Linked DNA regions of Homo sapiens: region 1 is reported to be linked to region 2. The links are microRNA targets in miRTarBase. Many come from high-throughput screens and were not tested one by one. Region 2 holds a microRNA gene; the other region holds the end of a gene's coding sequence.
What was found. Region 2 holds the annotated microRNA hsa-miR-513b-3p (AAAUGUCACCUUUUUGAGAGGA, at 2,109-2,130, shown strand). A microRNA usually pairs through its seed, bases 2 to 8, with sites in the 3' UTR of a target mRNA and lowers its output. Matches are read on the target gene's strand: a 7mer-m8 pairs with bases 2 to 8, a 7mer-A1 pairs with bases 2 to 7 and ends in A, and an 8mer does both.

Region 1 (5,000 bases), not on the chromosome of region 2:
AGGTCTGCCAGACCCTGTGGCCAGACCGCTCCGCAGGGAGGGAAACTTCAGAGGACCCTGCTCCCTAGCTCTCAGTGCCCATAGAAATGGGGCACTCCCCCCTCCCCACTGCATTCCTCAGCATCTCCTCAGTCCTCCATTGGTGGGCAAGGGTGGGGTAGGTGGGATGGTTCCTGCCTGTTTAATCAGAAGCTGGCCCCTCCAGCTTACCCTGCCCCACCCCCAGTGCTGATCTGGAAAATGGACAAAACCCAGTGCTGATCTGGAAAATGGTCAGCGGTAGGGTGAGCACTCTGGGCTGTGTTTTCCAGAGCCTTTCCCTCCAGGGCAGGAGGACTGGGCACAGCCAGGAGCCTCCCCCCACACTGCAGCTCACGAACCCCTCCCTACCCACCTGCTCCTAGGTGGGCTTCATGCCTGCCCTAGAGGAGGAAACGGGCTGGGGAGTGGAAGGGTGCGCTTCCTCTGGTGGCCTGCCCTCACCAACCCTGACCCTTGCCTTGGTTTGTATTGCAGAGTTTGATAAATTCCTTGAAGAAAGAGCCAAAGCTGCTGAAATGGTTCCCGACCTCCCCTCGCCCCCCATGGAGGCTCCTGCCCCAGCCTCAAACCCTTCTGGCCGGAAGAAGCCAGAGCGGTCAGAGGATGCCCTCTTCGCCCTGTGAGCAGCTCTGTGGTTTGCCTCCCCAGATGGCGGGTCCCCGCTCGCACCCCGTGGACACCGGGCACTGGCCACTCCTACATCCCCAGCTCCACACGGCCTGCACACCTGTGTTTCCATGGAAATGCCACCGTGTCTGCTCCCAGGCCTCCCACTAGTCAGGACCAGCTTCAGCCACTTCTTTTCTCTGAGTGGTGGGACAACTGCAGCCAGAGACTCTCTCCCCTCCCACCATGGGCCCCTCTGCCCATGTTTCCTCCCAGGAAGAGCGGGCAGAGTGGCCCAGCCCCAGGCAGTGCTTCCTGAGCAGACCACCCGGACTGTCTTTCCTCCACCCGCCCATGGAGAAAGAGCACGCCCGGCCCCGCCCTGTGCTCACCTCTGCCTGGCTCAGCGACCTTCTCAGGCATTCTGCCCTCCTGGGCCCCTCTCTCCCTGAAGGGGCTTTGTGGCATCTCTGGAAGAGCAGGGTGTGCTGCACTCATGGGCCTGGTCTCACTCCTTGGACTTGTCACCTTGTGACATTTGGCTTATCAGCATTTGAGAAGGCTCTGCTGGGTCTCCATGGTGGGGGTCTCTCACCTTCTTGACCCTCTCTCCATCATTCAGCTGCCAGCCCAGGCTTCACACCCAAGCTGGCTCAGCAGCCGAGCCTGGCACCGAGGGTCCCTGCAGGCTCCCTGGGCAGGGAGAGGGCCAAGGACAATTGGGAGGGCAGCAGGCAGCCCGCAGATGGTGGCCATGTGGCACGCTGCTGAGACGACACTACCAATAAACCAAACTGCCACGCACACACTGCAGGCTCACACCCGCACACCTGGTCCTGGCTTGTGGAGGGACTTGCACTGGAGGTATTGCTCTGGCTTGCCTGGGGAAGTGTCACAGATGTGCACATGGGCCACACTCAGTGCTGTGGCCTGGCCTGCCGTAGCCTCACACATCTGCCTCAAGAGCCAGCAGCAAACAGCTTTGTGGCATCCTTGGAGGTTCCCAGTGACTGAGAGGCCTGGGCAGCACTAAGGCCCCTGCTCTGCTCCCTGGCATAGGCCTTGGCCTCCTTGCACAGACTCTCCTGACAGTCTGGCCTCCTCCCACCTCAGAGGTCCTCTGGCCACCAATTTATACTCTCTCCCCAAGCTGATCCTGAAGGCAGGCAGAGCAGCTAGGGGCTGGTAACATGTATTCCCATCCCGTGTCCTCACTGGTGTGTCTCCTGGCCATGGGCAAGGGACTCGGGTCATCCCAGGCCCTGGTCCAGCCAGACACCTGGCCCCACACCTCCCACCAGGCTGCTGTTGCTCAGAAGGAGAATACTGCAGCTGTATGCATCCCCGTGTGTCTTGGGCCCAGCTCGCTGGGTCAGTCTGCTCCTGTCCCCTCCAGCATGCACTGCCTAGGTCAGCACAGGTTCCTGATCCATGGTGTAGTTAGCCCTTCCCACCTGGCAGGACGGCCCAGACCACCAGCCAAGCAGGGAAAGGGGGCTGGGCTTGACGGGAGAAGAGACCAGCGACATGGTCGTTGGGGAGCATTCAGGATGGCGACTTCAGCTGGGGGTCATGCTGAGCACCAACAGGAACTATTCCAGTGAAGAGCAAGTGCTGCCCGACCCAGGACCCTGTGCCAGGCTAGCAGCCCTCCAGCTCCCTCCAGAGAGGAAACCTCTGTCTGGCTGAGGGTGGGACTAGCTGGGATGTCTCACTCCAGTTGCTCAGGTTCACCCAGGAAGCTCCTCCGTGGAGTGGCCAGCCTGATTCTAGCCCTGTCCTCTCTGGCAGCACATGCCACACCTGCCTGGGCCTTCTGCTCCCTGATGCTTGATGAGCCCCTGCCTCCTCAATGTTTCTCAAAGACAGACCCCCCTGAGGCCAGCTTGAATGTGAAGACTGCTGAAGTTAGCTGGCTTCACTTGAGCTGCAGAAAAGGTGGCTGGGATGGCCCAGGTGCACCCAGAGGCCCCAGCCCTTTGGCTGCCTTTGGGTTGTGACTTGGGTTGTCTCTGAGGCCCTGCCAGAGCTGGGCCTGCGGGTGGTGGGCGGTCCGACCTCGGGCAGTCAGTGCTCCGCAGCCTCAGCACTGCATCCCAGACCCAGTGTCCTCAGAGGGAAGAGCCAGCCTCCCTGCCTCATGGAACCAGGAGTCCCAAAAAGTCAGGAGCCTGGAGGCTCTGAAAGGAGCAGGGATTCCATAGTGCGTGAAGCTGAAATAGGCGCCCTCCTGGGGAGCCCCCAGCAAAACTGTTTTTCATACCCACTCCCAGAACTGCCCCGCTCCAGCTCCAGCGCCAGCGCCAGCTGGTTGCCAGGCATCATTGGAGAGGCCTGGCTGCCCCAGGGGCAGCAGGGAGTGGTGGACCTGTATGGGCTGGCAGGAGGCCATTGGCCATGCTGACAAGTGTCACCTGCCTTCCTAGCCTGGAGCCACCCCTCAGGTGGCCTGCTTGCACCTCCTATCCGGAGGTAGCCTGCCCCACCTGTAGGCAGAGGGGGCTCTTGCTTGAGGCCTGCACAGGAAGCAAGTATAGCCCCGGTGCCCCAGAGTGGGTTCCACTTAGCCCTGGCGAGATGGCCTGTCCTGAGATCTCTGCTCCCAGACCCCACCATCTGGGGAGCACAGTCCTTAGGCTGCCTGGTCCAGGAAGGGGGTGCGGCTCTGTCAGGAAACCTGGACTCTCAAGGCCCACCAGCCTCTCCGTGAGTGTTAGAAATCACAGATACAGTATATACTTAATTACACTAAATTATTGCTGGGATTCCTTATAAGCACTAATTATACCTGATTATAGGTTAAAATATTTATTTTGTCAAAATATTTTCTTGGGAATGTGTTTAACCCTTTCTGCGTTCATTGTTGCTGAGATGTGAAAACTAACCATTCCCTCCTGCCTACCTTTTTGGCCACTGGGCGGCAGAGAATGGCGCTATGTGCAGTTGGGCCCCTGGCACCATGGGCCTTTGGCCTGCCTGCTGCAGAGTAGCCCTGCCTGGGCAGTCTCCAGGCACTGAGCAGGCCATCTGTGGCCAGGCTGAGAGAATGACTGGCTCGCTTACCAGCGTGCATGGGACAAGGAGCTTTGGAGCCTCAAGGGGTTGTTGCTGGCCTGGGCTAGAGGGAAAGGTGACCATCCGTCTGTCCTCCTGTCTTTCTATTAGCGCCTCCATGTGAGTGATGGTGCCTTGGTTCACTAGCCTTCCCCCACCACCCCACCATGCCACCTGGTGGTCTTGGGGCCTGTGCTGTCACTCCAGCCCCTGGGGAGGAGAGGACCCAGCCCGGAGAGTTGGGGCAAGGGCTCCACATGGCCCAAGGGCAACAGATGCTCGCAGGGCAGCTGCTGCCGATGCTCACGCTCCTGCCCCCCTCCTTCCCGCTGCCACACCCCACCCTGGGCCCCCGCAGACACGCATCTCTAACTCAGTTGGGCCCAGCCTTCTGGATGGCTTGGGGTAGGCCATGGGCCCACCTGGGGCCAGGCCAGCCCCTGGGGCAGCTCTGGAAGAGCAGTGTGGAGGAGCACTTGCTTGCAGCCTGGCTTCAGCCTCTGGCACTGCTGGAGTGGTCCCTGGGAGCTTCTGCACTGTCGGCTTTGGGGACGTCTCACCCACTTGGGTTACAGTAGGCCTTCCCCACCCAGAGAGAAGTGTTTCCACCCCAGAGACATTGTCTGTCAGCCCCTGAAGTGCTCGCCTCCCCCAGTGCCCGTCACCAGCCCTTCCTATCTGTGGGGTCCAAGTCAGGCTTCCCCTGCGGCCACCAGCCATAGGGAGCAGCCATCAGCCCCCGAGTCAGAACTGCTTCTGTCTGTCCATACCTCCAGGCTCTCCCGGAGAGGGGGACGGATATTTATTTCCTAAAGTTTGCACTTAATTGTGAGGATTCTCAGGATTGTTGGGGGCTACTGAAAAGAGGAATGTGTTGAATGTCGCGTTTGCTGTCCACTCGTCCTAGAAGTTTAGTGTTTTTGTCACTGTCATGTGTTTCTGTGGGCAGAGCTGGTTCTGGAGGGTGGGTCAGTGCACCCGAGGCTCAGAGCATCCATCCACCCCACTGGCCCTCCTTCCAGATACCCTCTCTCTAATTGGGTTCTTGCATGTAAAATACTCCACAATAAATAAATAATTGAACAAATTATGCCTGTGTGGTCTGTTGAATTGGCTACGACTGTCCAAAGGGCTTGCCAGTTTTGACCACCTGCTTTATTTAAGCAGGGGTGGCCATGGGGACCCTCAGTCCACCCTTCCCCAGTGGCCAGGCTGCCTGAGCAGCCCCTTACCTGGCCAGGAAAATTCCTGTGCGTGGCCCAGGTTGTGACATCGGTGGGAGTGGCTGTAAGCCTGCT
Region 2 (5,178 bases):
GCTGGAGTTTGCTGGAGTTCCACTACAGACCATGTTTGCCTGGGTATCACCAGTGGAGGCTGCAGAATAGCAAATATTGCAGAACAGCAAATATTGCTGCCTGATCCTTCCTCTGGAAGCTTCGTCCCAGAGAGGCAGCCACCTGTATGAGGTGTCTGTTGGCCCCTACTGGGAGGTGTCTCCCAGTTAGGCTACATGGGGGGTCAGGGACCCACTTGAGGAGGCAATCTGTCCTTTCTCAGAGCTCAAACGCCATGCTGGGAGAACCACTGCTCTCTTCAGAGCTGTCAGACAGGGATGTTTAAGTCTGCAGAAGTTGTCTGCTGCCTTTCGTTCAGCTATGCCCAGTCCACAGAGGTGGAGTTTAGAGGCAGTAGGCCTTGTTGATCTGCTGTGGGCTCCACCCAGTTTGAGCTTCCTGGCTGCTTTGTTTACCTACTCAAGCCTCAGCAATGGCGGATGCGCCTCCCCAAGCCAGGCTGCCGCCTGCCTCACAGATCGATCTCAGATTGCTGTGCTAGCAGTGAGCAAGGCTCCGTGGGCATGGGACCCGCTGAGCCAGACACAGGAGAGAATCACCTTGTCTGCCGGTTGCTAAGACCTTGGGAAAATCATAGTATTTAGGCGGAAGTGTCCTTTTTTCCAGGTAGTCTGTCACGGCTTCCCTTCGCTAGTAAAGGGAAATCCCCCAAACCCTTGTGTTTCCCGGGTAAGGCGACACCCCACCCTGCTTCAGCTCACCCTCCATTGGCTGCAGCCACTGTCCAACCAGTCCCAATGAGATGAACCAGGTACCTCAGTTGGAAATGCAGAAATCACCCGTCTTCTGCATTGATCACACTGGGAGCTGCAGACTGGAGCTGTTCCTATTCAGCCAAAAAGTAGTATAATATTCTTTGAAGATAGACTGTGATGAATTAAATATGAACTTTGTAAACCCTAGAGCAACCACTATATTTTTTAAAGTGACCTAACTAATACGCCAAGAGTAGAGAAAATATAACTGAATGCTAAAAATACTAAATCCACCATCAGGCAGAAAAGAGGAAAATTTGGAATAAGAAAAGGATGAAACATAGAAAACAATCAGAAAGCCAGTAGATTTAAATGCATGTATGTAAATAATTGTATTAATATAAATGATATAAATGCTTCTATTAAGACAGAGATTGTCAATTTATATAAAAATAAGAAACAACTATATACTTTCTAAAACAAAGCCATTTTAAATATGAAGACCTACGTGAAAGTTGGGTAAAAGTAAAAGGATGGAAAATATATTAATGCAAAGAATCTTAGAACTAAAAATCTTACAGCTATTACTATTTAATAACACACACACACACACACACACACACACAGAGCGAGTGAGCAGGCACTCAAATAAATGAACTATAAAGAACCATGGAGCTAAGAGAAATAAAATAGCATTTCCTGTCTTCCAGCCCATTATCTGTCTTGTGTGTATCTTGTATTAATTTCTATGGGTTCTTCCTGCTCCATAGCCTGAAGAAGAAATGAAATTTCTACTCTCTCCAACCTGTTACCCTCTGACTCTTCTCCACTTCTTTGCATCCAGGTTGTTGTATTCTGTGGTTTTTCTGATGGACTTTAGGTGTGTGCAGCACAGCTGGAGTTTAGGACAACAGAAAGCTTTGGTGAGTGGTTGGTCCTTTCTACTTAACCAGTAATTTTATGTTTTTTTTTTTTTTTTTTTTTCTATTACATTTTGTTTTTGTTTTGAGACAGGGTCTCACTCTGTAACCCAGGCTTGAGTATAGTGGCCTGATCTCCTCTCACTGAAACCTGACTCCCAGGGTCAAGGTGTACTCCTGCCTCAGCTCCTGGGTGGCTGGGATTATAACAAAATAAAACAAAAATCTGCATGTTAAAATCTCACTCAGGGCAGGATGAAAGGGGAGCACTGGGGGCTAGGATTTGCATAATTCCTTGGCATAAATCTTGGTGGCCATGCTAATGTATACACCTATATAGGGACTTGAATAAAAATGGCATGAATAGGGAGCATTTGGTCTGGGATGCCACATTCAGCCATTCAGTGTACAGTGCCTTTCACAAGGAGGTGTCATTTATGTGAACTAAAATATAAATGTCACCTTTTTGAGAGGAGTAATGTACAGCATGCACTGCATATGTGGTGTCCCTAGGGATGGGGCTGTAGCTGCGAGCATGGTGATGCCTGTTTTGGATCCTGTGCACCCACTCCTCAGTGCTGGGCTACTTCAAGGAACTTTTTGTGCCTTCTAGACGACTAGACATAGGAACTGTGGACTCCTGAGAAAACGCATGCACTCAAGTTCTTTAAGAATTTAACTATTTTTGCCAAATGAGGCTTGGCTCAAATAAGAAATACATTGTATAGAGGCCACAGCCATTCTTCGTCAGCTGGAAGGTTGTACTCCAGATTCCTAAATTCTCTAAACTTTTCTCTCTTGTCAACTAGTCATCATTTGCAAGGCTTCTCCTTTAGAGCTCCCAAAAGACTCTCCTGCCTCTCAGGTCCCTTCATTGTTGATCCACAGTGTCCATTTGTCTCTCAAAGACTAAAATGTTTTTCATTGACTTTTAAATTACCTTTCAAAGCTATATGTCACCAGTTTACAATGGGTTAAGCATAGTCCATCCAAGAATATTTCATTCTTTTTCATTATCTTTTTCCCCATTTTTTAAGAATACACTTGAAGAATGAAAGGGTGTGACAGAACTGATACTCAGGAGATGTCTCCCAGGCTTCTCTCTCCATTTTCTTCTGGTGACACTTCTTAACTTTTAACCCAATGGAGAGAGAGAGAGAGGGAAATAAATACACACACACACACACACACACACAGAGAGAGAGAGAGAAAAGGAGGGAGAGGGAGAGAGAGAGACAAGCGCCAGACTGTGTGATGCCTTCTGCAGCATGAAACCAGTATGCATGTTTGGGAAGTAGGTTATAAATAAGCTACTTATATTGTGGAAATGTGTAAAAAATGTTTTAGAAATAGTAAGTGATTAATACAATTTTGATTCCAACTGAAATAGAGGCTACAGCATATACACTGAAAGGGAAAAACTGTTAAAAAATTACTATATGGTTACAGGGAGGATTTTAGTTTATGTTTTTTTTTTTAGATTCAGAATGGATGAATATGTGTAAGACCATTAGTAACTGAAAGTAAAAAAAAAAATCTGTTGATGTATCTTTTCCATAATGAAACAATTGCACTAATAGAATACAAAGAATCTTTGTATGTGTGTGTGGGTCGGGGGGAACATTCTGAACAGTAAAAAAATTCTGTCAGTTTGAAATACTGTATGTACGTAGAATTTTCCAAAGTGATAACTCCTCTTAGTATATAGTTTCTAAAACTGTATTATAGTGAAAGCATGTTACTTATATAACTTTAAGTGATATCCTAAAATGAAAGTAAGAAAATTTAGTTGTTATCGTATCTCTTTTATGATTTACTCAAAAAGAATAGTATATTCACTGGTATTTATGTTTTCTTTCAGAGAAATTCTGTTTTGTATTATTCATCCATGTTTCTACCAATTTATTAAGGTTTAACTGACATAAAAGTTGTATATATTTAAGGTATACACCATGATGTTTTGATATATGTGTACATTAGGAAATGATTAAATCAAGCTAATTGAAAAATAAAATAATATGAACATAAAATATTTAGGTGAAATTCTAAGAAAAAAATTACAAGATCTCTGTGGTAGGCAGAATAACAGCCCCCTCAAAACAATGTTTACAGAGTAACCCCTGAACTTGTAAACAACACATTTTATTGCAGAAGAAAATTTGTGCATGTGATTAAATTAAATATTTTGAGATTGGGATTATCCTAGATTATCTAGGTGAGCCCAACATTATCACAAGGGTCCTTATAAGTAGGAGAAAGGCGGTTAGAATAAGAGAAACATTGGAAAAGGCTATAGTATTGACTAGAGGTGGAGGTAAAGTCCATGAGCCAAAGAACGGAGAAAGCAAGTAGCATCTTCTTCTAAAGACAATCAAGTAGATTCTCCTCTAGAGCCAACAGAAGGAACAAAGCCCTGCCAATGCCTTCATTTTAGCCAAGAGAAACCTAATTTAGATTTCTGACCTTTAGACCCTAATATAATAAATTTGTGTTGTTGGAAACAACTAAATTTGTGGCAATTTGATTCAGTATCAATAGAAAACCAAACACATCTGTATGCTAAAAGTGTAAATACACTAGGAAATCAAATAATTCCTAATTAAGTGGAGAGGAGTATCATATTTATGGATCGAAGGATTCAAATCTATAGACTTATAGAGTTCTATTGATCTCTAGAGGTAATGCAATTCCAACCAATGTCGCAGAAAAATATTTGTAGACATTACCATGATGATTCTAAAACTGATATAAAAGGCAAATAAACTAGAATATCCAAAAGAGTCTGAAAGAGAATCACAAAGTTGGAGAATTTACACTTGTAATTTCCAGATTTACTGTCTAACTAGATTAGCCAATATAGTGTGGTACTGAAGAAAGGATGGACAAATAGAAGGACCAGAAATATACATATATGTCACCAATTCATTTAGACTAAGCTGTAAAGTCAGTCTAATGAAGAAATGATAGTATTTAAACAAGATACTGGAAAATGTGATATATATATATATATATATGAAAAATATGAACCTCGATCCATATTTCAAACCATATACGGAAAATAACACAATTTTAGGCCAAAATGTCCAAGTATAAAATTTTATGAATAAAAGGCAGAATATATATATATTTTTTTATTTATATAGATATTTATTTTTAATCTTCTTTACCTTTCAGTAACTTTTTTCCCCCGATAATATACCATAGGCATCCTATCAATTATTATATATGATATCAAAATATAAAAGTAAAATTAAAAATAAGTTGATAAAATAGACTTTGAAAAAATTAAAATTTGTCTTCAAATCAGACCACTGAGATAATAAAAAGGCAATCTACAGAATACTAAAAATATATGTAATTTAATAATGTGATAAATAACATATATCCAGCATAAATAACTACATATAATTTAACACTCCTGTGTATACCAAGAATTTTACTAGTTACTTTTTAAAAAGTATCTGTGTTTTTCAATAAAATGTCAGTTCTATGAGGCTGTTTTGATCTGTGTTGTAGTCCTAGC

Region 1: the mRNA of TOM1L2 is a reported target of hsa-miR-513b-3p. Seed matches in the 3' UTR shown: 7mer-m8 at 1,181-1,187.

Annotation. Positions count from the first base shown.
Region 1 is chr17:17,843,300-17,848,299 of GRCh38, reverse strand. It overlaps TOM1L2 (target of myb1 like 2 membrane trafficking protein), which reads left to right. Exons shown (of 15, transcript NM_001082968.2): 15 at 517-4,789. The coding sequence ends at 665. Among named protein-coding and RNA genes, the nearest start is that of SREBF1, 8.8 kb to the right of the region's middle. RefSeq lists an enhancer at 3,513-4,033.
Region 2 is chrX:147,196,009-147,201,186 of GRCh38, reverse strand. MIR513B (microRNA 513b) reads left to right here and starts at 2,060; the gene lies at 2,060-2,143. All of the region lies in intron 1 of LOC105373347 (periphilin-1), which reads right to left.